Linked DNA regions of Homo sapiens. The protein of the gene in region 7 interacts with the protein of the main gene of each other region in a pairwise test. Each region holds a gene or a part of one and is shown on either strand. Other genes may lie near its edges.

Region 1 (4,476 bases), on a different chromosome or scaffold from region 7:
TTCTTTTCTTAAAATGGTGATATTTACATTAAATAATTAGTATCCATGAATTTGTCATGATGCTTTTATTCAGCAACATTTAAGCATTTCACAAATTTTTTTACTACTGTTCTGTGGCAAGTGACAACTATTACTATAACTGACCATATATATCTTTTAAAAATCAAGAAACATTCTAACTTGATTTGACATATATGAAAATAAGTAATGCAAAAATTTAAGATCCACAGATTTCTTTTTCTAAAAAACGGAAAAACCTAACATTTCAAATATCCTGATAATATTAATTTGACAAAATGATGGCATCTCCCCTACAAAAATATCAATTAGAGAAGATTACGGATAATGTAATAAATCCTACAAACCCTGTGTTTCAGTCAGAATACATTTGGCTGCAAAAGCAATGCAAAAAAAAAAAAAAATTAGACACCCATTTAAATTGGTTCACATAAAGAGAGCTTTATTGTAAGCCTACACAGACAACCTTAATTGGGGAACAAACTATTACCACTGAGAACTGAAACAACTAGAAGACTAATTTTTATCTCTCATAGAGCCACAGTCTCTTTTGCCTACTTCTGCCATTTGCTCCATCCCTCAGCTCTTCTCTGTAGAATGGCTTTCTCTGCTGACTCATCAGCGTAAACTTCCACCACATGGCCAGCCCGGCCCAGGCTCAATATCATTTGACTAACTAACTCGTGGTGTCCTAATTCCAAATGCTAAGAGAGAGAATGTAATTTGACTCATCACACTTTGAACTGGAATTCTCTGGGTCAGGTGTCTACTCTTAATCCAATTAGCTAAGCCTGGAGGTCAAGATTACAGGGTGTAATTCTGAAGACTACCTAAACCCAGATCTTTTAGTAGGAGCTATGGACAAGAGGTTATTTTAAGAAATAATTTGAAATTAGGCAGGAACTATATCTACTATGCACTAAATCTTGGATTTTTTTCTGTGGGTACAGATAGTTGTCCTGAACATTTCGGACATCTTTCCAAAAAGAGGAGGGGGCCCTAGGAAAAGGAAACAGGTCCGGGAAGACAGATAAAGGGTGAAGGAATGGCTCTCTTTGTCTTCCATTTTGGGGTCCAGACTTTGCGGTGTCTAACCTTATTCAAGAGTGTGCCTCATGGTGGGAGAAAGCTGGTATTTGGCAGGCTGGCAGGCTATTCATAGTTATTCCTACAGAGGATTCCAGAGGCTACAGAGTGGACCATTACAGAACACCAGCTATATTTAATAGCCAGATCAGTTAACTGCACATTAATTTCTATATTTTTTCTTATTGCTATCCTGAACCTTTAGTAAAGCCTTACTTGTTTAAACATTAATAGTTTCTTAGCTGTGCTATAGGGGATTGAGAAAAGAATTGGTAACTGAGTTCAGGTTGGAAAGGAAAGGGGAAAGGCAATGGCCACTGACACAAGGACCCTGACACCAGTTGTTATGTACTTCAGTAGTGACTGCTAAGAAGTCTCTGTAAAGAAAGGGACTCTTCTACTTCTAAGATTATGGGGGTATGGGACATGAAATCTTCTACCCAACTCTTACCACGTAACAACTAATCTTTCACTGCCATCTTTGGAGGCTTATCACCTTATTCCACGAAGGGAATCAGTAGGGTCCTTTACCATTTAATAATTTGTAAGCCAATACTTCTAAATCAAGGACCAATGTATGTATCCAACTGATTTCTAGATATTCTGTCTTAAGGATTTCATATATAATTTATTATATTCAAAAGTGAACTCATTATTTCTCCCAAACCTTCTCCTCTTCCTGAATTTTTTATTTTATTAAAGAGTAACAATCACCTACCCAATCACATGAGCCAAACACAAGTAGTCAGTGTTACCTTCCTTACTCTCCTTCACCCTTTTTGTATCTATCAGGATCAAGGCATATCAATTTTAACATCTAAATTTCTCCCAAATAAATCACCTGCTCTTTATCCTCACTATCATTGCCTTAGTAGAGACCCTCATTATTATTCTGAAATAATGACTACTAAAATTCTCTTCAAATTATCCTTGCCTATCTTACTTTCCTAACAAATCACTATTCTGCTTTGATGATAACCTTTGTGAAACACAAACCTAAGAATATTAGCCTTGCTGAAAATCTTCCTACGACTCTGGGATAAACTCCATGACTTGATCTTTCTACTCTTCTGCTACAGCTTCCTTCAGGTGCTCACATGTACCCTTCCTGCTAGTCACACAGGAACAAACCACACTCTTCTGTGGTAGCACACCTTTTTTTTTTTTTTCCTCTGAGGGAAAAAAGGCACAAAACAAAGCGAAACAAACAAGCAAATAAAAAAGGAGCACTAACAGTTGGTGCCCTGTCTGGCAATTAACACCTAAACTACTGTACCCTCTAATGAATATAAATAATTTCATGAAAAAGAACATCACATGAGGTCACTTCATTAGCATAATGAAACAACACACCCAAAACCACCATTCATGTCCGAACATAGACAAAACAAGGGCACCATGTAACCACATAAATGAGCAGATATAGCCCCCCTTGCCTAACATGAGTACTTATTTTATGCTAAAAATTTCATTCTTACCATCAATCATCAAATTGCTCCTGCTCCCTGACAGCACCCGTAGCCCTTGCTTCCTCAAACCCTCTCCAAAATTATCCAACACAAGTCCAATCCCTAAAAGCCTCTGCTAATTCACTCTTACCAAGACATTAAGGTGCCTTACAATTCCCCATGGAACACTGTATTCCTGATAAAGGCAAAACAAATCTGGAACCTCACAAAAACTATTCCTGATTTAATATGATCCTAAACCCAGAGTAGTAAATTATTGCTCTCTGCATTCAAATGAAATCAAACCCTATTTCCAAGTAGCATGTATAAGGTATAATGTGTAAGTCTTTATAAACTTGAGTCTTTTAATTAATCTAGATCAGATCATAAACTCTATGAGACCAGGTATTCAACCTAATCATAATCTGTAATCCATTTCAGATAGAGGCCTGTTAATTACTTTCAGTCCTGGCACAGTTGTTGAAATTTAGCTATGTGAACCCGGACATGTTAACTCACACCTGTAATCCCAGTACTTTGAGAAGCAGAGATGGGAGGATTGCTTGAGCCCAGGAGTTCAAGACCAGCCTGAGCAACATAGCAAGACCTTGTTTTACTAAAAACAGTATGTAAATAAATAAAAAATTATCCAGGTGTGGTGGCACGTACCTGTAGTCCCAGCTACTCAGGAGGCTGAGAAAGGAGGATCACTTTAAGCCAAGGAGTTAACATCTAGGAGACTGCAGTGAGCTATGATTGCACCACTGCACTCCAGCCTGAGCAGCAGAGTAAGACCACACTTATCTCAAAAAAATTAAAAAATTAAAAAAAAAAAACTTAGCCATGTGTTTTCTAAATAGGTTAAAGGTATATTCTATAATCATGTCATTAAAAAAAAATAAGCCTGAGCATGCAAAATCAAACTTGAAAAAGGCAATGTTTTGCAAATCACAAGCATTCAATATTCTTTCAGTGAATAAATATTTAAACTCTACTATATGCAAATACTGGTGATAAAAGCACCGACATACTTTCTGTGTGCTAGACAGGCAGACCATAAGATAAAGTTTTTGCTCTCAAGGATCTTATACTCAAGCATTAACATTTGTTGAATAGATATATGAATGGATAAATAAAACAGGCAACATTTTACCAAATCTGAAATCTGCAGCCTATAATAAATTTAGTTGCCTTAAATAGCATCTCAAATAATTATACTTAACAAGCTAATCACTGAAATTGTTCTTTGTGCAATGATATTGATATGTGCTCCAAATATGCAGCAGTCAAGAAAAAACTTCAGATCAGTTGCCTGGATTCAAATTTGATCTACAATTCAATAACTGTGTGACCTTTGCTGTAGTTACTTAATTTTGCTGTACTTCAGTTTCCTCAACTGTAAAATATAAAAATAGTACTTATCTTGCAATGGTTACTTCAAGAATTAAATGAGTTAATATAGTAGTTAGAATCGTGCCAGGCACACTGTTAGTGCTAGAATATATATTATTTTATTGTTACACATATAGTAGAGCTGAAAGATTTTATAACGTTAACAATCCACAGATATTAAAAATTTAACTTAACGATGAATTCTCAATTGGACAAAACATCTCTTCTATAGCTATGATTTAATCATAGATATGGCACAAAATTTAGATCTTTTAAAAATACATAACAATCAAAACAAAGCTGTCACTGAAAAACAGAAATCTTACCCTTGCTGCTCAGTCACACTAAGCAAAATATCAGTAGCCTAGTAAAGTGACCAGGAAAAGACCTATCCTAATATCAGATCTTTCCCATTTTATCATTATCAGTGAACTATTCACATGGAAGAAGTTTGCAATACTTTATAGATACTGACAAATGTGTTTTCTTCTCTTACATATTATTATTTACATATGAGAAAGCTACTACCTAC
Region 2 (3,906 bases), on a different chromosome or scaffold from region 7:
CCCCAGCACTTTGGAGTCCCACCAACTCCAAAACATGGCGGGGCTCAAGGAAAAGCGATTATAGGCTCTTATCTGCACCACTGCAGCTCCAAGTGCGGTCTGCAACCAGCAGCATTGACATCACCTGGAGCTTGCTCAGGCTCCTGCCCAGACTTGTTGAATCAGAATGTGCAGTTTAACAAGATTCCCCGGGTGATTCCTGTGCACTCAGTTGGAGAAGTGCTAGAGTGATGAAGGTCCCGATAGCCTAGGAACATTAAGCCCTCCAGTCTGTGAATCTCCTTAGCTGGGGCATAAGGGGCAGTCACTTTCACTCTTCAGAGCCTGTTTCCTCATCTGTAAAGAAAGGATGATAACTTCTGTGCCACAGAGCCATGGAGTGATCAAATGTATGCAAAACCATGGCCAGTTACTGCCTGTAACTTGTTTAAAGGCCAAGAGAACCCCAAGGAAACCCTGATGGGAGTAGGATTGGTAAATAAGATCGGGGATCAGGGTGGCCAGGGCTGGGCTCTGGAGTTGCCCACAGATGGCCCTTTCACTGTCCACCTGGCCTGTAGCAAAGTTAGCTCCAAGTCTGAGCTGCATTTCCCAAGCCCTTTCTGGGGACATCTACTACAAGGATTTGTCCCAGTGTAGCATCTATCAGGCTTCCCTCCTTGCATGTTCTGAGGACCAAATGGAGCCCTTTGCCCTCAGTAGACGCAGGGAACGACAGGGCAGAATGAAATCACTTTAATAGCATAACAACATTTTCAGACCAGGAGTCACAGATGAAGAAAACATTTTGTCTTCCATTTGCACAATTCTGGTGAGGTGTGTGGTTGCACTGGACAATCTTACAGACACATTTTTCACATTGAGAACTTAATAAATAGATACATACAATGTCAAACTCCACAGACAATGAGTTATGAGTGTGATTGTTTTCTTATTCTGCCTCCTCTGGGTTGGGAGGTTGCTTCCCGTTGGGCTGATGGCGGCTGGGTCCTCTAGGAGGGGTACTCATACTCCTCGGCACTGCGACGGCCAAAATCCATCCAGCCCATGTAGTCCCGGTCACTTATCCTGTGGCTGGGGTCCAGGTTCTGCAGGTTCTTAACGATGGACATTCGTCCAGAAGGAGCTACAAGGAGCAGGGAGGAAGGAAACAGGGACATTGCATCTAAAAGCATCTCTAGTTCAATTTGGGAAGGAGAGCAATGGAAAAAGCCAGACGCAATATAACAGACACCACCTTAAAGGTATCAAAGAGCTATCAAAGTAGTGGAACTGATGGACCAAAATCTGAGAGAGGAGAAGGACCAATGTCTGTGTAACTGGAGAGAGGACAATATATTTACAAGTTAGGGGTGTGCTTTGCGTTCTGCAAGTATTTAGGTGGATTCATTTTCTCTAGCCTTGCAGTCTGGGGACTTGCCTAGATTTTCCTTAGTCTCCCTACCGTTTGCTTTCTTTTGGTAGATGGGTGTTTTCCTTTTGTAGATGGCATCAGCAGAAACCAACCAAAGATTTTTCCAGTACTTAATTGTTCCTAAATTCATCCCTTAATATCCATCAACATTCCTGACTCCTGGAGAGCTCTTGTTATTAAGGTGGCACAATTATAATATCTTGATGTTGGAATGGTTAAAAAAAAATCGTTGGTGGGAGTGTAAATTAGTTCAACCATTGTGGAAGACAGTGTGGCAATCCCTCAAGGATCTAGAACCAGAAATACCATATGACCCAGCAATCCCATTACTGGGTATATACCCAAAGGATTATAAACCATTCTGCTATAAAGACACATGCACATGTACGTTTACTGCAGCACTATTCACAATAGCAAAGACTTGGAACCAATCTAAATGCCCATCAATGATAGACTGGATAAAGAAAATGTGGCACATTTACACCATGGAGTACTATGCAGCCATAAAAAGGATGCGTTCATGTCCTTTGCAGGGACATGGATGAAGCTGGAAACCATCATTCTCAGCAAACTAACACAGGAACAGAAGACCAAACACCGCATGTTCTCACTCATAAGTGGAAGTTGAACAATGAGAATACATGGACACAGGGAGGGGAACATCACACACCAGGGCCTATCGGGGGGTGGGGGTTAGGGGAGGGATAGCATTAGGGGAAATACCTAATGTAGATGACTGGTTGATGGGTGCAGCAAACCACCATGGCATGTGTATACCTATGTAACAAACCTGCATGTTCTGCACATGTACCCCAGAACTTAAAGTATAATAAAAAATAGATAAATAAAGCTCCTTTGCTACATAAATACTCTTTTAAAAATATGAATTTGAAAGTTATATTCAGAAAGCTTTTGTCATTTATCAGTAAGTGTTTTGAGTTGATGATCATTTTATTTTTAATGATAAATCAATATCAATTAAAAATGATATTCAGAAAAAGACTGTCGGATTAAATCTTGGCACCTCAGTAAGACTCAAAGAAGGGGGGGAGAGAGGTGATAACAAAGGTGATTTAAATCAGCAATTTTGACCAAAATGCAATAACTGAACCTGAAATTGTCCCATTGGGATGGAAGTTAAGTCTTCAGGAACAGTGTGATCCTTTTGTAGAGCTCACACTGAGTGAGCAGGGACATGAAGAGGCAGTTTATTTGGAGACATGAGACAGTCCTAGCTCAAAGTTCATAGACAGAAGCCTCCTGGGGTATGAAATCAGCAGAACACCTTCTCCTGTGCAAGCTCAGTCTTAAGAAAGGCCCTTCAGGGACTTCAATGGACAAAGCCCAGGCCAAATCAAGGGTAGAGGAGTGGAGGACCACTCAATGACTCCCACTGTGTTGGGGGCCACTGTATCCCCACCTCCTGTCATGCTGGTCTATATCCCTTCTGCATGAGGCTGCCCTTGCCAGCTCCTACCCATAGGCTGAGTAGAGTCAGACTATGGCTTATGTGTTGATAAATGAAAATGCAAAGGCAGTTACCCTGGGTAATGAAATTAAGCAAGTTTAATTAAAAACAGAAACAACACAGAACAACGTCCCCACCCTTTCTCTCCCCAACCCCAACCCTTCCCAGTTTTGGAACCAACAGTCAATTCAGCACATTTCAGGTCTTTTTGCAGATATCCTCAGCCTACGTAGAAGAAAAATAGCCCCTGCTATTTAATTGTTCATCATTCAGGTGAAATATTACCCTTGAATTCAGGAAAACCTATAGACCCAGTTACCTGTACACAGTCACATGGAAACATGACCCATCCTTCTGCCTGCTGTGATGATGAGTGCCCACTCTAAGGCCTGGGCACAACCCAAATTTCCATCTAATGGAAGCAAGGTGACAGCTTCAATACGAGCAAGCAGCCTCAGTTAACGGTGGGGGCACCATGTTCAGTCATGGAAGCTGCATTTATCACACACCCTGACTTCCCCGTTCCACGTACAGTTCTGTCCTCATGTCATGTGTATTTACCAGGGTCCTCACTCACTTTCCCAGTGCTGACATAGAGTAGGGGCTTACATCTGATGTATGGAATTGATCAAAGCCTGATTCCTATGGGCCACAAGAGATGGACGGGCCTCCCTCTGAATCACACAAAGAATTGGAAGGGGCTTATTGGAAAGCTAGCCTCGGGACTGTCTGCATGTCACTCAGCTAGTGGGCTGCTGAATCACCTTATTCCTGGAGAAAGACTTTGGTGCTGAGAAAACAGTGACTTTCTTAGCTCTTGCTAAAACTGAAGGGTTTAGCTCTTTTAAACTTTAAAATGTGGAATAGGCAGTACAGCTAGGAAGCTGAATGGCTTCCAGGCCCTCCTGGGGGGAGCAGGACTAGATAGAGTCTCAGCCCTGCTGTTGCGTAGATATGCAACTGCATGTAGGTTACTCAGGCTTTTAGAGCCCCAGCTTCCACACTGGCAAAATGGGTATAATAA
Region 3 (3,801 bases), about 82 Mb from region 7:
TGCATACCTCTTGAAATTAAAGGGACCCAAACTTACACTGCTATCAAAATACATGCAGACAGTAAAAACAAAGGAAAGGAAAAACATTTCATCAGAATTCTAAAGGCAGTTCTGGCATTCAAAAAGTATACACATTGAAGTTAAAAAGATGACCCTCCAAGTTGACTTTTTAGATACACTGTAACCCTCACAGCAACATATATCGAACCACTCTTCCTAATTATCAGTCAACTTAAAGTGCTTCTTTCAGAGGCCTCATGAGGTGGCAGTTATGAAGGCCATTTTTTGACTTAATTACAAGCTATTAAACGTCTTTCAGAAAATGAAACCCTATTATTCTGGAACTATGGAGGGAGCCAATGTCTAATTCCTTCTCCCACCAAAAATACCTCTCATGTAAAAAGGAGTATGTTTATGTATGTGTTGTTGTTTTATCCAATTATATAAAAATTAAGCATTAGACTAGATTGTAAGGAATTTAAAGGAAATTCACAAAATGGATAGCTCCTCCCCTTGCCCCACCATATCCCTGAGGTATATCTCACTCAGAATGAAATGAACTTCAACAATTAGTATAGTTCATCAATGCAGACAGACATACGCGGAAAGTACGTTTGTTATGATGTTCTTACATTTGTTAGATTTCCATATTTTGTTTTTGATGTTTTCTTGTAATTTCCATGACTAAGTAGGTCCCCCTATTTGAGGTGTCTGTACTAAAGGTTCTGTACTAGTGCCTTCCTAATGACGGGACTTGGTTAAGTTGCAGATCTATGAGATCCTATGATTCCTGTTGACAATCCAAGAGACTAGAATTCAAGAAACTTAGATTATACAATTAAGTCTAAGCTCTTAAGGCTGAGCATATGGAATAAAAATGAGGTTATCCATAGTGGTATGGAATGTATGATCTTTATTAATTTTTAATCCATCAATCTAAAATCACACATACTAGATCAAACAGAAGTACCACAGTATGCTTTATTTTGCAGGTATTAATTGGTTCTCTAAATCGATACATCCAAAACTTTAGTTAGCAGCAAGCATCAGTTCTTCCAAAGCAGCTTAGGTGAAAAACAATTGTTTACATTCACCAGTTCAAAGTCGTACTGTCTGATCCACTGTTGTATTGACATAAAATTGAACTCAGTAGGCAAAGCTAATTGAACACTCAGCTCATAGATTTTGAGCTTCCTTTATCTTATTGGAGTTGAAGCAGTTTTTAACCCTCTGTTAATATTCTCTATTTTAATTCTCAAAGAATTAAACACACATATTTTCTAATTAATTAAGATAGAGCCATGATAACTATTGAGGAATTAGTGATATTAGTCTCATACCCAAAAGGTAGAACACTTTTAAATGAACCCATAATTTTGAATGTATCTGAATTTCCAGTTTATATGCTTAGCAAGGTCACAAGCTGATTTTATTAATCTGGCTTCTAGATAATCATCTCAAAAATATGTATTGAAACAAAGCCACTGTTTTTTATGATGACATCATTTTAACCAAATGCTTTTATAACAAATAAGCAGTTGTTCTCAAAAGAGAACATTTTAAAAGAAAACATTCTTTACATACTTAGCAAATAGAGGAGAGTGTGAATCTGTATGTCAGAGCTATAGAGTTCTAGAGGAGTTGTAGTTGAGCAATCTAACTTTCTACTCCAGTTTTTGAGATGTACATGTTTTTGAGATGTACATATAGAGAAGGCAGTAAAGAAAGATCTTGATAAATTTTCTTTAACAAAAATTTGTAATTCCAGTTATTGGCAAAGGGTTCTGGCATGAGTTAATGGCAGCAATACAGTGGTGAGCTTCTGCATTGTGCTGAGAGGTAGATTGGGACTTAATCCTTGGAATGAATAACCAACTCACTTTATTTAAGGTTCAGGCTTAATTTTTTTAATCCAAAAAAAATTTCTGAAGTGAAGGCAGATCTTTGGGAACTTTTGTTTTTAGTTAAATGTAGAGATAAAATAGCTTGATAAAATAAACATCTGCCTTATACTAATGACAGGTGTACAAAGCAGCCATTTGAACCCTAGACAACTTCAACACTGCTTCCAAATAAAAGGGCAATTCAACAGCTGAACCAATCAAGCAGACACAGGGATGAGTGGTCTCCAGTACCTTACTCCAGAAGCCGGAGCCATTAGCAGTCCCTACAGGGATATAAGTCTATATCAAGATCAACAAATGTACAGAATAATCTTAGTCCAGCTTTGGCTAGGCAGGCATCTGACTGATGACATATCAGGGCCCACTAACCTCTAGAGTAAGCACTTGTTGCTGTGAGAAAAAAGAAATCAATATATTAAAAATATCAACTAGAGCATATTCACATAGGGAATGGGAGAGTGCAGGAGGCACACAAACAAAGTATATAGAGTTTTTGTTTTCAGTGCAGGATAAATGAACCTTCTTAACAAGTTAAGGCTCTGAGGGAAAAAAACTTTCTAAACCATAACCTTAATAAACCATAACCCATACAGGTGTTCCAAATCAACACCTTTTTTAAAAAAAGCTGGAGGTCTTACTTCATCCTTCAGTATAAATGTCAAGTCTGAGATAATCAGTATATTCCAAACTCTAGAACAACAACAACAAAAAAAGAAATCTCCTTGTTAAAATATAGTAGCTATTAACAGTAATGAAGAAGACAGCCAAACTTTTGCTATTAAATACAATATCATGAAGCCATTTCTTTCTTAACTAACAGAAAAATACAGATTTAAATAATGCTGATCAGGAGGTGGGGAAAGGAAGTCTTATCATGAACCAAATTTCGTGTCTGCCACCAATGAAAATGAATCCACTATGTTCTTGAATTTATTTCCTGAAGCAAGTTAAATTCTTTAACACCTTTGATTTTGCAAATAACATCAAAGTAGTAAAATATAAGTAACTGTAACATATAAAATTACACATCAGCAAAAATGCTTTCATAATTGGATCCAGGGGCTTAAAATCATTATTTACTTAAAAAATTCTAAGCCACAATTTTTCTTTTAATTATACTTTAACAAAGGAAGAAAAAAAACAGAAAAAAATTGGTCCTAATATATTTTGTCTTAAATAAGTGTACTCATGCCCAAGTTAGCTAGGAACTCACTGAAGTTAGTCTGCATATCTTAAACAATCTATTGCACAGCATGTCCTGGCTTTTAGCCAATGGAAACGTAACTTCTAATTGAAAAAAACAAACAAACACTAGATTTAACTGATTACACAGACTGATAACCAGTACGACTTTTCCTTCTTCCAATCATATAAGAGATAAAGACAACAATTATAAGGAAGCCCAAGGCCACACCCACTGCAACAGGAATAAGAAAGTTGAGGTCAGAGTCAGCAGAACATTCTTCAGCTGTTAGAAAAGAACAGACAGCAAGGAAAGGAAATTAGCAAAGAATGCAATTAAGTAGTAAAAAGCATGCAAGAAACATGCATTTTGAAAGTGTACATAGCTTAGTTTTTTATAGCATTACCTCTATTTTCTTATTTGCTCAATATCTCATTATCACTTTATCTAAAATCACACGAAATTCCTCAGTACGAAAAGCAGAAGGTAAGGGAAGAATGGGAAGGGTCCAAAATAGAGAATTGCGCTTGCCTAATATGGGAAGACTTTAGGTTTGATTATCTAATGACACTGGGTTAAGGAGCCATCATCTACACTTAAAACCACTGCCTGTGTATTTCCCTACTCTCTTTCTCTTCGTCACACCTATAATTAAAGTATAAATAAGAATTCTGTATAAGTAATAAAATTTAAGTTAAAAAAGACTTAGGATCA
Region 4 (4,476 bases), on a different chromosome or scaffold from region 7:
CATTTATGAAAACCAACCTACTCCAGGGTTTGTTTGGGGCAAGCCCCTGTAGTATGACGCCAGGCCAGCTGGCTAAAATCAACAGCTACACGAGTCAACATGTGCGTCAGCCGGCAGGCTGCTCAGTTAATCCCCGTATGGGGGCCTTGCGAACAGCAGGACAACTAAAGGTGGCCTGGCCCGCCACTGCTCACCACCAGTTTCACGCACGACCGCCACGGTAGCAAGGGGGTGGCCTTGGTAAAAATAAATCTGAAATCCTGTCTTACTCAAAGCCATGCACATTCTTTTGCCTAGAACACACACAACCACCTGGTTGAGAGGGCCTTTAAAAGACAAGGAATATTCTAGAACATTACGTTGGATGGCGTCTAGCCTCTGCTTGGACAGTGTGGAGGGGCTGGTCCCCCACCTGAACTCGATGACCAGGGAACGATCCCCTTTTTAAAGCCCCAATTTCTGCTCCCTGCAATGTACACCCAAGACCTTCCTCTGACATGGGATTAAAAAGTTCAGTCTCCTTTTCTGCAAAGAAGGTCCAAACAAATTCAACTCCTGAGATGGAAAAAGAACGAAACTTAAAAACTATGAGGAGTCTGCCTCTATGAATAGAACACTGCAGAGCTCTCTGTCTGGGCCTGTGGTGATCGGCCCTTCTGCTGCCACGAGAAACCAGGAAGCAGCGTCACCACACCGATGGCCCAGCGGACCCGTGAAGAAGGCAGGCTGGGGAAGGGAGCCGAGACGAGATTCTGCTCAAACCTGTGGGCAAAAATGTTCCCGTGTCGGATCTTCCAATTATGTAATGTTAAAAATGTTACGATTTTAAGATATTAAGTTTGTTTTCAGAGGATTCTATCTACGATGACAGCTTGCACCTCCAGGCTCCAGAAGAGAACTGTGTGGAGTCTGGAACATTCTTTGTGGGAGTAAGGGTGGCTCACAAAGAGGTGTCTGTCATTTTCACTTTGAGTGAAGACCTCTCCTTGTTCTACAAAAGGCTACTAAAAGGTGGGACAGCTCTCAGCCCTGGGAGACGCTTGTGACGATTCATTGCCTCCCTCACAAGAGACTTCTAAGAAGACAAACTGCAAAGGAATCGAAGTGCTCTGACAGCATCCAAAACTAAAGGGAAACAGAGTCTTGTTTACTTCTTGTCAAAACAGCTTAAATCTCTCCCTTCTAAAAAGGACTTTCAGGCTGGATACAGTGTCTCACGCCTGAATCCCAGCAGTGTGGGAGGCCAAAGTGGGAGGCTCGCTTGACCCAGGAGTTTGAGACCAGCGTAGATAACAATAGTGAGACCCCCATCGCTACAAAATGTTTTCAAAAAAATCAGCTGGGTGTGGTGGCACATGCCTGTAGTCCAGCTATTTGGGAGGCTGAGGTGGGAGGATCACTTGAGTTTGGCACGTTGAGGCTGCAGTGAGCTGTGACCGTGCCACTGCACTCCAGCCTGTGCAACAGAACGAGACCCTGTCATTAAGTAACATAAATAAATAGGATTTTCAGATGCTACACAACACTAGACTCACCATCCATAACTAGGTGACATAATTTTCCGAACAGGACGCATATGCAAGGAGGCATTATTATAATAGTACTTACACCAGATGGCATAAACTGGGACACCTGGGCCATGGCCGCCTGGCCCAAGGGTCTTCTCCAAGTTAACCCGTTCACCTGTGACCCTCACTCTCATTTCGGGAGTGTCTTTGCCAAAACCATGCCAGCACCCCAGCTTCCTCATCTCCCATTAGTAAGGAGATGATGGCACCCAATCTGTGAATATGCTTGCCTAGGGCCAGCTCTGAGCAGACCATCAGTAAAAACCATGTGCTCCCTTGGTTCAAGTTCTTGGCCATCCTGGCCCATGTCTCAGAACCTCTGCAGACCGGTCGGTGTCATACCCTGGACATACAGCCTGTCCCAAGTGGGAGGAGCAGAGCCTTCCACCTGCCACCCTAAAGGACTCGCAGCTCTGGGCACTCGGGGGGCTCACACTCAGACCTGTCTGGCTCCGAGTCCCTGCAGCAGGGCTGCTGTGCCTGCTGCTCTTTGGGCTGAAGCTGCTCCTGCAGCACCTGGGTTCCTGCTCTTCCCCCCCACCGGAGGGCGGGCCTACTCTGACCTTCTCCCTGGCTCGAGGACGGTGACCTTTCAGCCTGCTGCCTGCCTGACAGTTGGTGGCCCAACCATCTCCTGGTCCTGGCCCTGACTCACGCGCCCATCTGAATACAATGATGGCAGTTCCTCCAGGTTCTCAGTCAGTTCAGAAGACAGAACCCCAGGGTGCCTGCATGATACTGCCCGCAGCCTCTGTGACAATCATCTGCTGGGGCCCCCTGTGCTGGCCTCAGCTTGGGGATCCTGGGTCAGGAGGCCAAGCTTCTGGAAATCCTGGTGTTCTCTGCAGAGTGAGACAGGCACACATCTAATTCAACCATGCGAGCTGAACTGTGAGCAACTCTGTGAGAGGCCATAGGGCCACATGGCCAAGAAAACAAGCTGTCAGGCCAGGAGTAGGGCCCGCACTGCTGGGCTTCCCGCTCCCCGCTCCCCGCTTTCCTCCTGCCGCCAAAGCTGCTCATGTCCTCCAGGTGTGCCCAATGGCACCCTGCACAAGTGTCACCCACCACGCTCCCACACTGGCCTCGCTCCCTGAGCCCTTGCAGATCCAGGGGCAGTAGGCGCCTCTGCACGTCCTCCCTGGCCTGACGGACACGGCACTTTGTTTTCGGGGAAGGCATCTTCAAGGCACTGGCCTCCACTCTGGACCATACATGGAGAAATCTGCTAAGTGATGAAGTCTAGATGAAAGTCTGCGTCCAGCCCGCCCCACTGCCCCCTACACTGCACAGAAAGACCCAGGGGCCCCTTGCTTGCCATCCTAGCACTCCTGCCCAACACCGCCCCTGGTTTCTGAGCCTGACGGCGCAGAAAAGAAAGGCCTCTCTCCCGAGGACACATCCTTATGACGATAGATGATGACCCAAAGGTACCAGCGGCACGGCTGTAAGACACTCTTTGTTAGGCGCGAACCTCCCCACCTGCAGCTTCCTGGAAGGTGCCCTGCCTGAGGTGCGCGAGTCCTTGGGAGGCAGGCTCCGGCCTGACCGGGGTCTTGGTCACTCACCTTCAGACGCAGTGGCAGGTCCTCAGGGCTCTTCCCCGCCAGCTCGTCATCATCTTCGTCGTCCTGCAGGAACAGGCTGCTGGGGATGACGCCCTTGGCGTACTTCTTAGTGATCTCCACAAAGTCATCCAGCGCGATGTAGTTCTTGGCTGAAGCATGAGAGAAAACAGCATGGGCGCCCCACACTGCAGCCCCACTGCCACCCTCACACAGAGCAATGGGCTGGGGACGGTGGCGTGGGGCCAAGCTAAGAAAGGAGCTGAGTGGGTTCAGGTGGAGGAAACCCTTCCCTGGGCGGCCTGAGGGTTGAGGACCAGGCTGGGTGAGGAGGAAGGGGGCAGGTTTGCCAAGTGCCAGCCTCCACTCCTGGCCCCCGGCCCCTGGGTGTGCTGTCCCCCACCCCAAGTGTCCCTCTCTGCCTAGCTCCTTATGCCTGGGGCCACTCACCCACACCTTTCACCCAGTTCACCTGCCAAGCCTTACAACATGCACCTCCAGTGCATGCTGACACCCTCCTCTTCAGCCAGCGTGGGGCTTCTCACAGCACGGGTGACAAGCCGCCCTGTAGGGCAGTACCCTGCCAACCGCTCCATCGAACATGATCTGCGCCCCCAACCCCTCCATTCAACGTGATCCACCCAGGGCCTACTGTGCACCTGCTAAACCGCTCCATCCAACATGATCTGCCACACACCTACTATGTGCCTGCTGACACCTCCATCCAACAAGTGTCTGCCATGGGCCTACTACATGCCTGCTAACCCGTCCATTCAACATGCGTCCTGCCATGGGCCGACTTACCCCTCCATCCAACATCTTCCACCAAGAGCCTGCTACGTGCCCACTGATCCCTCCATCCAACGTGATCCGCGAGAGCTACGTGCCCACTGACCCCTCTATCCAACATGATCCCCTAGGAGGGAATGAGGCCCCTGAAGGACCCCAGTTGCCGTGGTGAGATGGTGACCAGGAGGGCCTCCAGGGGAAGGATGGGAAAGAAAGGACCATGCTGGGGCAGGGCAGAGGGAGACAAGCCAGGGTGCTGCAGAAACCCTAGGGAGGAGGCAGGCTGCATCCAAGATGGCAGCCGTGATAGTGGGCGCTGACAGACCTCCTAATGGATCAGCTGTGTGTGCAAGAGGAGAGGAGTCGGGGCAGCACCCAGGTGTAGCTGCAGCAAAGAGATGAGGCAGCCTTGGGGGGGCCCACACAAGTGGCAGGTAGCACAGGCCTCAGTAGCTCACTGTAGACTGAGCTGTGAGGTGACCATGGGACAGCCAGGTACAGGAGATGTGGAAGGAGCACGGGCTGGATGCAGCCTGGGCGGGCTGGGGGCTTGC
Region 5 (4,476 bases), on a different chromosome or scaffold from region 7:
GCTAAAACCACCACAAGCACACAATTGAAAACATCTCTCACTGATTTAATATAATGTAATAAAGCAGCTTACACTGGATTTTTATGTTATATTACGGCAACAGACCTTAAGTCTTTGGCATTGTACATAATCAGCGCACCCCTTGGCTGAGGTTGCTTAGAGTCTCCTGGGAGAAGAGCTGTGTCTTAGTGCCCATAAGACCTGGCAGTAAGCCTGGCAAACGGACATTACACGAACGCTGAAAACACCAGAGACAAGTCGCTTTCAAGACTCTCTTTACTAAATTATAATTTTGGATCGGCAATTTGCTGAATAAAAAGTGGAACCCACCCCCAATGGCTCCCCAGCAAAGAAATTATAGAAAGAAGTGTTAAGAAAATTCACATATCCTCCAGGTAGGACCCTTTCTAGTTGACTTTTTTTTTTTTTTGAGACAGGGTCTCGCTCTGTTGCTCAAGCTGGAGTGCAGTGGCATGATCATGGCTTGCTGCAGCCTCGACCTCTCACCTCAGCCTCTGGAGTTGCTGAAGTGTGTGCTACCATGCCTGGCTAGTTTTTTGTTTTGTAGCGATGGGGTCCCACTACATTGCCCTGGCTGGTCTTCAATTCCTGAGCTCAAGCAAGCTACTGCTTTGGCCTCCTAAAGTGCTGAGATTACAAGTATGAGCCACTGCATCCAGCCTTAGCTGATTTTTAACACAACCTATTCTGCTAAATTAAAATAACTATATTTTGCAAATATTGTCAAGGGGATTTATACCTGAACTTAGAAATTCAGTTCTCAACTTAAATACAAAATGCATCTGTCTACATCTACATTAAAAACAAAGCAAAACCAAGTAATCAAAACAAATAATCAAATCGATACAAATCCACCAGTGGTCATTTTGTGTTGCCTTTAAGAAATGGCAAACAAACTGCCTCCTCTACAAATGGGTAATCATATCATCTACTGAAACGTACACTTTGGAGCCCAGCGTGGTTTTTGCTGTCTGAATCAGGGGTTCGGTGTCCTTTATGTCAACAAGGACGCTATCGCTGATCTTGTCCAGGTGTTCAATAGCAACACGAGCAGCCTGCTCATAGCCATCGGCTATTCTGATTGGGTGAATGCCTCGGTCTAGCAATTGCTCCGCTTCTTCTAACAAGGCACCAGCCAGGACTGCAAATAAGCCAGCAGACAATCAGTTCAGGCAAACAACAAAACTTCACTTTTAGTATAATCAGCACAAGTTAGATGCTATCATGGAAAGAAGCAGCTTCTAGAATTAAGCTGCAAGTCATCTTAGAGGCAGAAGCCCTCTATTTTTAAAAGAAAGCCTCGTTTTAGTTCTAGCGAAGGTCGAATAGGACATGTGTCCCCTTACAGATGAACATTCAACCCTCAGTGATGTGAAGAACGTAACTAAAGAATATAATGTAAAAAGAACATTTTTCTAAGAGGTAAAAAGCTATTATGTTTCCTGGGCCAGGGTCTACTCAGTGAAATTCAGCCTGGTGATGAGACTAAAACGTGTTTATTATTTATTCCCCCCACCCCCATCCTCCTTTCTCCTCATTTTAGGGTCGCAAAGATGAATTTTGTTTAAATCTACAGCTCTCCAAGCGCACCGAGAACAGTGCTTGGCATACAATAGTATCCAATAAATATTTGTTGAATGAATTCAAATTTCATCTGCAGAAAAGGTAACCTTACTGATATTTTGTCTTCAATCTCCCCAACTTTTTAAAGATTTCAAATCTTCAGAAAAAAAAGGTACAATACTAAAACGAATACCAGTTTACTTATTAACATTTTGCCACATTTTCTCTACATGTACATACTGTTTCTGTTCAACTATTTGAGAATTAGTTACAGAAACCATGACATGTCACTCCTAAGTATTTAGGTATACAGCTGAGAAGAAGGGCATTCTCCTACACATCTGCAATATAATGGTCACAGATCACTCAGGAAACTCAGCATTGCAGTACATGATCCAAAATCAAATTCTTCCACGTTTCCCAAACATCCTTTATAGCTTAAAAGACAAGCAAAATCAGTGTCCAATCAATCATTACACATTTCTCCATGCCTAACAATCCCCAGCCCTCTTTCTGTTCTTTTGTAACACTGTCAGTTTTGAAAGTCCGACATTTGTTTTGTAGCATGTTTTCAACTTGGATTTGTCTGTCTCCTCATGCTCTGATTCAGAGACAACAATCTCAGCAGGCATGTTAGCCCTGTGGTCTTAAATGACGTCTCTTAAATGAGAAAGGATGTTTTGTCTTTTCTTACCAACCACTCCTGTGGTTCCATCTCCAATTTCATCATCCTGAGACTTGGACAGTTCCACCATCAGCTTGGCAATCTGATGATCAACATCCATCATGCTTAAGATGGTGGCCCCATCATTAGTTACAGTCACATCTCCATCCTTATCCACCATCATCTTATCAAGCCCTAAAAAACAACGTTTAGTAGGCTTTGCGCAAAAAACTGGCAACCAATATCACAAACTATAAAACAAGACCTCCTGACCCAGCTCTTATCTGTGCAATTTATTATATACAAATAATGCAACATACACAAAATAGTAGCTGCATGAAGGCATTTTTAGATTGGCTAACATAATTGGCAAAACATTATGGAGCATCATTAAGTATAATGTTAATCTCAAAAGACAACTATGATTTGGAAAATGCTAATGAAATGATGTTACATGCTAAAAAAAAAAAAAAAAAGGTCCGACCTAATATTGCACACGATTATAACCATGTTTAAGAAACCTGAAATACACTAAAAAATTTTGGCTGTGTTAAGGAAGTAAGATGCCTCCCCTCAATACTCCACCTTTCTGTAGAGAGGTTTATATTGACAGTTTTATAATTTAAATCTTTTGCTAAAAAACACGGAATGGTGGACTCTTACCATTTGGTCCAAGTGATGTTCTCATTGTATTTGCTACAGCCTTTGCTGCCATTATATGAGACTAATGAAACAAACAGAAAAAGCAAACACTGTTACATATAATTTCAATGGTTAAAAGCACACATCTGATGACTACAAAAATCACTTATGACTTAGTTTCTATTGTCTAGAAGCTTCTACATTTAAGGGGCAACAGACAGGTTTAAGTATTATAACATTTACGACTCCAGTTTTAATAAGCAATTCTTACGTAAAGAAAGAGAACCAAGTGCTTTGTGTTATCTCACTGAATTTTCAACACATTAATGAGACAGATTCTTTTACCAGCCCATTTACAGCTGAGAAGAGGGACAGTATGACTATGACCTTACAGGCGTTGCAAGACCACTGTGCAACACAGTCCTCCCTGAGCATCCATGGGGAATTGGTTCCAGGAGCCACAGTTCTCCCTGAGCATCCATGGGGAACAGGTTCCAGGAGCCCCCGAGGATACCCAAATTCACAGATGCTCAAGTCCCTTGCATCTAGGCTTGTACATCTGCGGGTTCCCCATCTGCAGACAAGGAGGGGCCTGTACTCATGAGAAACAGTCCAACTGTAAACATACAACACCTTACTGTCACACTATGATTTACTGCAGAATTGTAATCTTTTGAGCTGGATGCAGTACTAGAGCCTGCAACCCCCCCTACTTGGGAGGCTGAGGCAGGAGGATTGCTTGAGGCCAGGAGTTTGAGATCAGCCTGGGAAACATGGCGAGACCCCATTACAAAATAAAAAGAAAAACTGCTCTTGCTTTAAAAATCTTCCTCCACCCACCTGAAATCCCAATAATTATATTTATAGATCAAAGTTACTGACTGGCCTTTTTTTTTTTGAGACAGTCTTGCTGTGTCTCAAAAAGGCTGGAGTGCAGTGGCATGATCTCAGCTCACTGCAACCTCCGCCTCCCGGGTTTAAGCGATCCTCCTGCCTCAGCCCCCCAGTAGCTGGGATTACAGGCACGCGCCATGACGCCCTGCTCATTTTTTTTTGTATTTTCAGTAGAGATAGGGTTTTGCCATGTTGGCCAGGCTGGTCTTTAACTCCTGACCTCAGGTGATCCACCTGCCTTGGCTGCCCAAAGTGCCAGGATTACAGGTTTGAGCAACCACGCCCGGCTGAAACTGGCCCTCTTAAGGAAGGTAAGTAGCTGTCAAAGTGATAATAAAAAAGTTACCTGTTTTTTTTTTCACATTTAGCTACCAAATTGAGTAATAGAATTATTATTATTATTATTTTTAAGGAGAAAGCAAGAGGCAGAAAGAAAAGGATGTAAAGAATTTGGCAAATAGGAGAGATCCCGAAATCCCGAGATCTATTTTGCCCTACTGCTCGGCAACGTGGAAAAAACCTTTTTCTTCCTTCTGCTAGTTCTGTGTGTTTCCAGAGGGAAGAGTATCAAACATCAAGGCATAATACATATTATGGATAAAACAGAATTATGCTGGCTGGCCTGGAAACTTAGCCTGCTCTGTTTTAGGTTACAGGATTTTAGAATATGATTCCTTCCTAAGCCAACTAAT
Region 6 (4,476 bases), on a different chromosome or scaffold from region 7:
CCTGGGTGACAGAGCAAGACTCCATCTAAAAATTAAAAATAATAATAATAATAATAAAAACTACAAAGAGTTCATGAATCCACAGATACCACAAGCACCACTGGTAAGCTGAATACATAATGTGGCTTGAACATACACTGTTATTTTTGAAATATATGTAAATGTTACACAGAAAAAAATGTAAACTTCGTAAAAGTCACTGACTTTTTAGTCCCTTTTAGTCAGCAATTGTTTTTCAAGAGCATAACGAATATCATGTAGGAGAATCCCATGAAAGTTTCAATGTTAAAAAAAAGGGGGAGATGATCTTATACTCGGAAATACAAGGAGTCACAGCTGAAACAAAAATACCTGTAGGTGGGGTGCAGTAGCTCACAACTGTAATCCCAATGCCTCGGCTGAGGTGGGAGGATAACTTGAGCTCAGGAGTTTGAAACCAGCCTAGGCAATGTAGCAAGACCCTCCGGAAAGAAAAAGAAAGAAAGAAAGAAAAAGAGAAACAGAAGAGAAGGAAAAGGAGGGAAAGGAAGGAAAAGGAGGGAAAGGGAGGAAAAGGAGGGAAAGGAAGGAAAGGAGGGAAAGGAAGGAAAAGAAAGACAAAGAAAGAAAAAAGAAGAGAAGAGAAAACAAAAGAAGAGAAGGAAGGAAAGAGAGAGACAGAAAGAAAGGAGGGAAGGAGGGAGGGAAGGAGGGAGAGAGGGAAGGAAGGAAGGGAGGGAGGGAAAGGAAGGAAGAGCAAGCGAGTTGTGGAAGAATTAGAAGAAACTATTCTAAAACTCATATGCACCAAAAAAGAGCCCAAACAGCCAAAACAATCCTAAGCAAAAAGAACAAAGCTGTAGGCGTCACACTACCCAACTTCAAATTATACTAGAAGGCTATAGTAACCAAAACAGCATGGTACTGGTACAAAAACAGACACACGGACCAATGGAACAGGTTAGAGAACCCAGAAATAAAGCCGCATATTTACATTTACAACCATCTGATCTTCAACAAAGTCCAATAACAAGCAATGGGGAAAGGATTCCCTATTTAATAAATGATGCTGGGATAGCTGGCTAACCATATGCAGAAGATTGAAACTTGACCCCTCCCTTTCACCATATACAAAAATCAACTCAAGATGGATTAAAGACTTAAATGTAATACCTAAAACTATAAAACCCTAGAAGAAAACCTAGGAAATACCACTCCAGACATAGGCCCTGGCAAAGATTTCATGATGAAGACTCCAAAAGCAACGGCAACAAAAACAAAAATTGACAAGTGAGACCTAATTAAACTAAAGAGCTCTGCACAGCAAAAAAAAAAAAAAAAACTATCAATGGAGTAAATAGACAACCTACAGCCAGGCATGGTGAGGCTCGTGCTTGTAATCCCAGCACTTTGGGAAACCCAGGCAGGAAGATCACTTGAGCCCAAGAGTTCAAGATGAGCCTGGGCAACATAGAGAGACCCTGTCTCCACAAAAAGTAAAAAAAATTAACCAGGCATGCTGGCACACATCTCTAATTTCAGTTGCTTGGGAGGCTGACGTGAGAGGATTACTTGAGCCTGGGAGGTCAAGTCTGCAATGAGCTATAATTGTGCCACTGCACTCCAGCCTGGGTGACAGAGTGAGACCCTGTCTCAAAAAAAAAAACCCAAAACAAAAAACAGACTACCTACAGAATGCAAGAAAATATTTGCAAACTATGCATCTGATAAAGTCTAATATCCAGAATCTATAAGGAACTTAAATAAACAAGCAAAAAACAACCCCATTAAAAAATAGGCCAAGGACATGAACAGATACTTCTTCTCAAAAGCAGATAGGCACAGTGGCTCACATCTATAATCTCAGCACTTTGGGAGGCCAAGGCGCGTGGATCACTTGAGGTCAGGAGTTCAAGACCAGCCTGGCCAACATGGTGAAACATTGTCTCTATTAAAAATACAAAACTTAGGCTGGGCGCGGTGGCTCACGCCTGTAATCCCAGCACTTTGGGAGGCCGAGGCAGGCGGATCACGAGGTCAGGAGATCCAGACCACGGTGAAACCCTGTCTCTACTAAAAAAAAATACAAAAAATTAGCCGGGTGTGGTGGTGGACACCTGCAGCCCCAGCTACTCGGGAGGCTGAGGCAGGAGAATGGTGTGAACCCAGGAGACGGAGCTTGCAGTGAGCCAAGATCACGCCACTGCACTCCAGCCTGAGCAACAGAGCAAGACTCCGTCTCAAAAAAAAAAAAGAAAAGAAAAATACAAAACTTAGCTGGGCATGGTGGTGCACACCTGTAATCCCAGCTACTCTGGAGGCTCAGCTGGGAGCATCACTTGAACCTGGGAGGCAGAGGTTGCAGTGAGCCGAGATCGAGCCACTGCACTCCACCCTGGGCAACAGAGTAAGACTCCATCTCAAAAAAAAAAAAAAGGAAAAAGAGACATGCACATGGCCAATAAGCATATGAAGAAATGCTCAACAACACTAATCATTAGAGAAACGCAAATCAAAACCACAATGAGATACCATCTCACTCCAGTCAGAATGACTATTCTTAAAGTCAGGCCAGGTGCAGTAGCTCACATCTGTAATCCCAACAGTTCGGGAGGCCAAGGCAGGAAGACTGCTTGAGCCCAAAAGTTCAAGACCAGCCTGGGCAACATGGCACAACCCCACACTACAAAAAATATAAAAATTAGCTGGGCATGGTGGTGCACACCTGTAGCCCCAGTTACTCGGGAGACTGAAGTGGGAGAATTGATTGACACCAGGTCGAGGCTGCAGTGAGCCATGATTGCACCACTGCACTCCAGCCTGGGTGACAGAGTGAGATTCTGTCTCAAAAAAATGAATAAATAGGCCGGGTACGGCAGCTCATGCCTATAATCCCAGCACTTTGGGAGGCCGAGGCAGGCAGACCAAGAGGTCAAGAGATCAAGATAATCTTGGCCAACATGGTGAAACCCCGTCTCTACTAAAAATACACAAATTAGCTGGGCATGGTGGTGCATGCCTGTAGTCCCAGCTACTTAGGAGGCTGAAGCAGAACCGCTTGAACCCAGGAGGCGGAGGTTGCAGCGAGCCTAGATTGCACCACTGCACTCCAGCCTGGTGACAGAGTAAGAATCCGTCTTAAATAAATAAATAAATAAATAAAAATAAACAAATAAAAATAATTTAAGAAGTCAAAAAAGTGGTGATGCCCACCTGTACTCCCAGCTACTTAGGAAGCTGAGGTGAGAGGATCACTTAAGCCCAGGAAGTTGAGGTTGCAGTGAGTCATGATCATGCCACTGCACTGTAAGCCTAGGTGACAGAGTGAGACCCTGTCTCAAAAAAAAAAAAAAAAAAAGGCAAAAAATAACAGACGCTGGCAAGTTGGTGGAGAAAAGGGGATGCTTATACACTCCTGGTGGGAATGTAAATTAGTTAAGCCACTGTGGAAAGCAGTTTGGAGATTTTTCAAAGAACTTGAAACAGAACTATGATGCGACCTAGCAATCCCATTACTGTGTATATACCCAAAGGAATATAAATCCTACTATTAAGACACATGCACATATATGTTCATCACAGCACTATTCATGATAGCAAAGATGTAGAATCAACCTAGGCACCTATCAATGGTGAACTGGATCAAGAAAATGTGGTATATATCATCCACCATGGAATACTACACAGCAATGACAAAGAACAAAAATCATGTCATTTGCAGCAACATGGATGGAGCTGGAGGCCAATATCCCAAGTGAATTAACACAGGGACAGAAAAGCAAACACTGAATATTCTTGCGTATAAGTGGGAGCTAAACCTTGAGTACACATGGACACAAAAAAGGAAACAGTAGACATGGGGCCTACTTGAGGGTAGAGGGTGACAGGAGGGTGAGGATCAAAACTATCTATCTGGTAGTATGCTCACTATCTGGGTGACAAAATAATTTGTACACCAAACCCCCAACACATACACTTTACCCATGTAACAAACCTGCACATGTAACCCCAAATCTAAAATAAAAGTTGGAAGGGAAAAAAACTCAAACAAAATATGTGATTGGATAATATCTGAAATGTTCTTTAAACTCTAAACAAAAGCATAAGGGACTCAAAAAAGGGAGAGAGGGAGGGAGGGAAGAAAGGAATGAAGGAAGGAGGGAGGGAGGGAGGGAAGAAAGGAAGGAAGGAAGGGAGGGAGGGAGGGAGGGAGGGCTGTGGATTTGCCCCAAGCTGTCAGCTGATCATCTTGGCAGCAGAAAGGTTGGGACACTCCAGGGGTTCCCAGTGATGAGCTGAGGTCAGAGATGCATGCAGATGGGGAGGACCCCTGGCACAAAGCAGGCACTCCACAATTGTTTGAAAAACACAAAACAATTAAGTCAGAATCAGAAATGCTCTGCTGACGACACAGTCCCAAACAAATACTGGCTGCCACTATTATCATTAAGCAGGGTCTTGAAGCGTAAGTAACATCTGGAAGCTAACATGACGGAA
Region 7 (3,436 bases):
ACCTCTTAAAACATGGATTGAGTCACTAATAATCCTTTGGTGCTCTATGCAATATATGGTAATTATAATGAATAAGTATTCAATTTAAAAATGAAATTGTTAATCGTGTTTTAAATGAAATACATTTATAATTAAGCTGATTCATTAATAATTAACAACCATTAAGAACTTCTTGAATTGCCCATCTTAGGCCAGATCATAAATTTTATATATTCTTTTGATTTATTTTACCAGTGTCCTGAAGAGAGGACAAAAAGATATATTCACAGCACTAGCTAATAATCCCTGTCTCAAATCCGCTTTCATAATAAGGCAGGGCATAAAGAAATAAGAAATGAAATCCAGCAGGCCATCATTTCTTTTTTGCATTTTTCATGATGGTTTCTCCTTCACTCTTCAATCTCCATGTAAAGCCCCTGTCCCATGAACTTCATGCCAGCCAGTGTGCCCCTCTCCACCCACCCCTGTGGCCACCGCCCTCTGACTTCAGACCTTTGCTATCCTGAATAAAGCCTCCTGCACCTCAGTCAGAGTCTGCAGCTCCACCTCAGGCCCCAGCATCAGGCTGGGAATTCAACAAGCCTCAGAGGCCCCCAGCCAACTCCCTGGCCTCACAAGGCCTTCCTGTTCAGAGACAATGAGGAAGTCTCGGTGTCTTTATCCCAGCCAGTTCCTCCCCACAGGGCCGGCGCCCTCACTGTCACCATTGGAAACTGCCCCCTCTAAATCACTGATTCAAACACCACACTGGCCACCCCTTCCCCGCCTTCAGCTCTCTGGGGATAGCTTCCCCTGGATGTCTTACAGACACCTACAACCCAAAGCGACAGAAACTGAGAGGAGTCAGAAACATACTCATGGATTTACATCCTTTAATAGCACTTGTTGATGACAACAGCAGATATTCCTCAGCTGTGACACATTTTTGCCCTGGCTAAGCCTGTGAGGTTCCCTTCAAGGCTCTGGGACCCAGTCTTCAGTCATTCTTCCTGGATTTGGGCATCTCATCAAACAAAAAGCGAGTCACATCACTCTCAGCGCTGTGGGGCTCACGGTTGTTGTCCACTTCTCTCTCCCTATCTTGTGAAGTGTTGCGCATACTGCCATTGTTGCTGGCCTCCAAGCCTACCCGCTCCATGATGTAGTCAGCAAGGCAATCGAGCAAGGTAAGGAGGGTATTTATTGTGGAGGAACTCTGGCTTTGGACGTCTCGTTCATCTTGCACAACGCGGTCCACGAAGCTCCTAGGGACCTGTAGCTCATTTCTAGAAGGGTCTTGAGTCTGGTTGTTATTTGTAGACGAGTTCTTACAGTTCTTTTTCTCTGACATGATGTTTGCTGGGTTTGGCTCTCATCAGCTCTGCTTGATTCTCTAGCTCAAGTAGGTCTCTGAGGACACTAGTGCTTAGTCCTGCCTATTGTATCCCTCTGCTCCAGGCCCTTATTGGTCAGGGAGCTAGCTGCCTTTGTGACATCCCTAGACTTTGTGATTTCATTGGTGTCCACTGGTCCCTTATCAGACCTCAGCCTAGAAATGTCTATGACACTGATCTAGTCACGCTAATGACTGAACCTTGATTTTGAGGGAACTATAACTCTCTACCTGATTTTGACATTATAAAAATAAATGTGTGCTTCAGTGGAAAACTTTGCTCTGTCTTTAGGACACCACTGCAGGTTATCTGATTCCAGCCTTACATTATCTGTGAAGTCTTTTATAGCCTTTTGTTAGTTGTAGGCTGCTGATACATGTACAGCATATTCTTTAGTAGAGGTTCGGTTGTTCTTCACCTTATGAAACCAGTTTTGCCTCCATTTACACAATCATTTAATATTACTGATGAATATTCCCATATCAACTCTTTGGTTTCCCTTTTGAAGCAGTCATAACATCTTTTTCTTTTAGCATGTGTTCATTTCATATCTGTATGAGTGTCATGATTTTACCCCATTTGAAAAATATATTTTAGTCATTTTTCAATTAATAATAAGATGCTCAGCCGGGCGCAGTGGCTCACTCCTGTAATCCCAGCACTGTGGGAGGCAGAGGTGGGTGGATCACAAGGTCAGGAGATCGAGACCACAGTTAAACCCCGTCTCTACTAAAAATAAAAATAAAAATAAAAATAATTAGCCGGGCGTGGTGGCGGGCGCCTGTAGTCCCAGCTACTTGGGAGGCTGAGGCCAGAGAATGGTGTGAACCCGGGAAGTGGAGTTTGCAGTGAGCCGAGATCGTGCCACCACACTCCAGCCTGGGAGACAGAGCGGGACTCGGTCTCAAAAATAATAATAATAATAAGATGTTCAATAAGTTTACCTGTCAGTGCCAGGTAAACAGTTGATAGAGAAGTGCATCTTGTGCTCAGTTTAAGCCCAGATGTGTATTTCTTGTCCCTCCTAGGTGAAGCCAAAGCACTAAGAGATGTTTCTTTTCTATTATTTAATTTTCTTCTCTACTAATTCTGTGTTTTCCCTTTGACTTTGGTTCATTTACAGCCAATAACTTTGCCATTCCACAAGGGAAAAAGTGGAAAGAAAAAGGAGTCTCAAATCCAAGCATTTTCAAAATCCAACCATTAGGTTTCAAGGCCTGAGAATATTCTAAGGCTTGAGACTCCTCCCTTTGATGACTCTGATCCTATGACTTCACCTGGGGTCATAAATCTGCCCTCTGGCCTCTAGGTTCTGCCCTCAGTCATTGTTCCTTTATTTTGAATGGTAGCATATGTTTACAGCTGAGTAGTTTTATCAGCCTGCTTCCTCCTGTCAAATTTTGAGAGTCCTGTAGACTTCTTTCATTTCTTCCTCTATTTGTCCCTTTCAGTCTAAGCTGGCATTGTTTCTGCTGATATAACATTGTCAAAAACTTACAGGCCTTTTATGTATGTCATGGGGATTCATGCCATTAGACAAGAGGCTTCTTCAAGATCCCTCATAGAAAATCCCATCTCTATTCCTTGCTTATTCTGAGAAGCACACCCCATATCTCTTCAAAACACCATCTATGTGATTGAATACTTTGATCTTTTGATCCCTTAAAGGCACTAACAAAAGGATGTCTAGCCACGCCCTTGATTTTATCTCTGGAGGATGATTTTGTGGCAATGAATTTCCTAATTTTGGTGTCTTTTGCAATCTGGATAGGCTGAAAATTTCTCATATCATTGAATTCTGGTTTCTTTTTGCTTAACAGTTCTTCCCTCAATTTATGTCTTTCCTCTGGCATTTTACTATAAACAGCAATAAAAAACAGGCCATTCCTTTAATCCTTTGCATGAAAATCTGCTCAGCTAAATATTCAAGTTCATTGCTTACAAGTCCTGCTTTCCACATAATTGTAGAGCACAATTCAGGTAGGATTTCTGATGCTATATAACACAAACTCCCTTTTCTGATATTATGTTACTAATTTCTTTCTAAGCATTCACCAGCAACA

Evidence for each region.
Region 1: the proteins of H2AP (region 7) and CEP44 interact in binary tests that used the Homo sapiens proteins (3 or more experiments, as listed by UniProt).
Region 2: the proteins of H2AP (region 7) and CCK interact in binary tests that used the Homo sapiens proteins (3 or more experiments, as listed by UniProt).
Region 3: the proteins of H2AP (region 7) and LAMP2 interact in binary tests that used the Homo sapiens proteins (3 or more experiments, as listed by UniProt).
Region 4: the proteins of H2AP (region 7) and WFS1 interact in binary tests that used the Homo sapiens proteins (3 or more experiments, as listed by UniProt).
Region 5: the proteins of H2AP (region 7) and CCT5 interact in binary tests that used the Homo sapiens proteins (3 or more experiments, as listed by UniProt).
Region 6: the proteins of H2AP (region 7) and NTAQ1 interact in binary tests that used the Homo sapiens proteins (3 or more experiments, as listed by UniProt).

What each region holds. Positions count from the first base shown.
Region 1 is NC_000004.12:174,311,179-174,315,654, reverse strand, and holds part of CEP44 (centrosomal protein of 44 kDa), read right to left. Parts: intron 1-4,476. UniProt on the Homo sapiens protein: Centriole-enriched microtubule-binding protein involved in centriole biogenesis. In collaboration with CEP295 and POC1B, is required for the centriole-to-centrosome conversion by ensuring the formation of bona fide centriole wall.
Region 2 is NC_000003.12:42,257,106-42,261,011, forward strand, and holds the end of CCK (cholecystokinin preproprotein), read right to left. Parts: intron 1,127-3,906; coding exon 993-1,126; 3' UTR 721-992; downstream 1-720. UniProt on the Homo sapiens protein: This peptide hormone induces gall bladder contraction and the release of pancreatic enzymes in the gut. Its function in the brain is not clear.
Region 3 is NC_000023.11:120,425,255-120,429,055, forward strand, and holds the end of LAMP2 (lysosome-associated membrane glycoprotein 2 isoform A precursor), read right to left. Parts: 3' UTR 3,373-3,801; coding exon of another isoform or gene 3,230-3,372; 3' UTR 894-3,229; downstream 1-893. UniProt on the Homo sapiens protein: Lysosomal membrane glycoprotein which plays an important role in lysosome biogenesis, lysosomal pH regulation and autophagy.
Region 4 is NC_000004.12:6,293,850-6,298,325, reverse strand, and holds part of WFS1 (wolframin), read right to left. Parts: intron 3,286-4,476; coding exon 3,137-3,285; intron 1-3,136. UniProt on the Homo sapiens protein: Participates in the regulation of cellular Ca(2+) homeostasis, at least partly, by modulating the filling state of the endoplasmic reticulum Ca(2+) store.
Region 5 is NC_000005.10:10,252,641-10,257,116, reverse strand, and holds part of CCT5 (T-complex protein 1 subunit epsilon), read right to left. Parts: intron 2,973-4,476; coding exon 2,912-2,972; intron 2,444-2,911; coding exon 2,279-2,443; intron 1,163-2,278; coding exon 964-1,162; intron 1-963. UniProt on the Homo sapiens protein: Component of the chaperonin-containing T-complex (TRiC), a molecular chaperone complex that assists the folding of actin, tubulin and other proteins upon ATP hydrolysis.
Region 6 is NC_000008.11:123,419,452-123,423,927, reverse strand, and holds part of NTAQ1 (protein N-terminal glutamine amidohydrolase), read right to left. Parts: intron 1-4,476. UniProt on the Homo sapiens protein: Mediates the side-chain deamidation of N-terminal glutamine residues to glutamate, an important step in N-end rule pathway of protein degradation.
Region 7 is NC_000023.11:37,988,734-37,992,169, reverse strand, and holds H2AP (huntingtin-interacting protein M), read right to left. Parts: upstream 1,392-3,436; 5' UTR 1,331-1,391; coding exon 977-1,330; 3' UTR 856-976; downstream 1-855.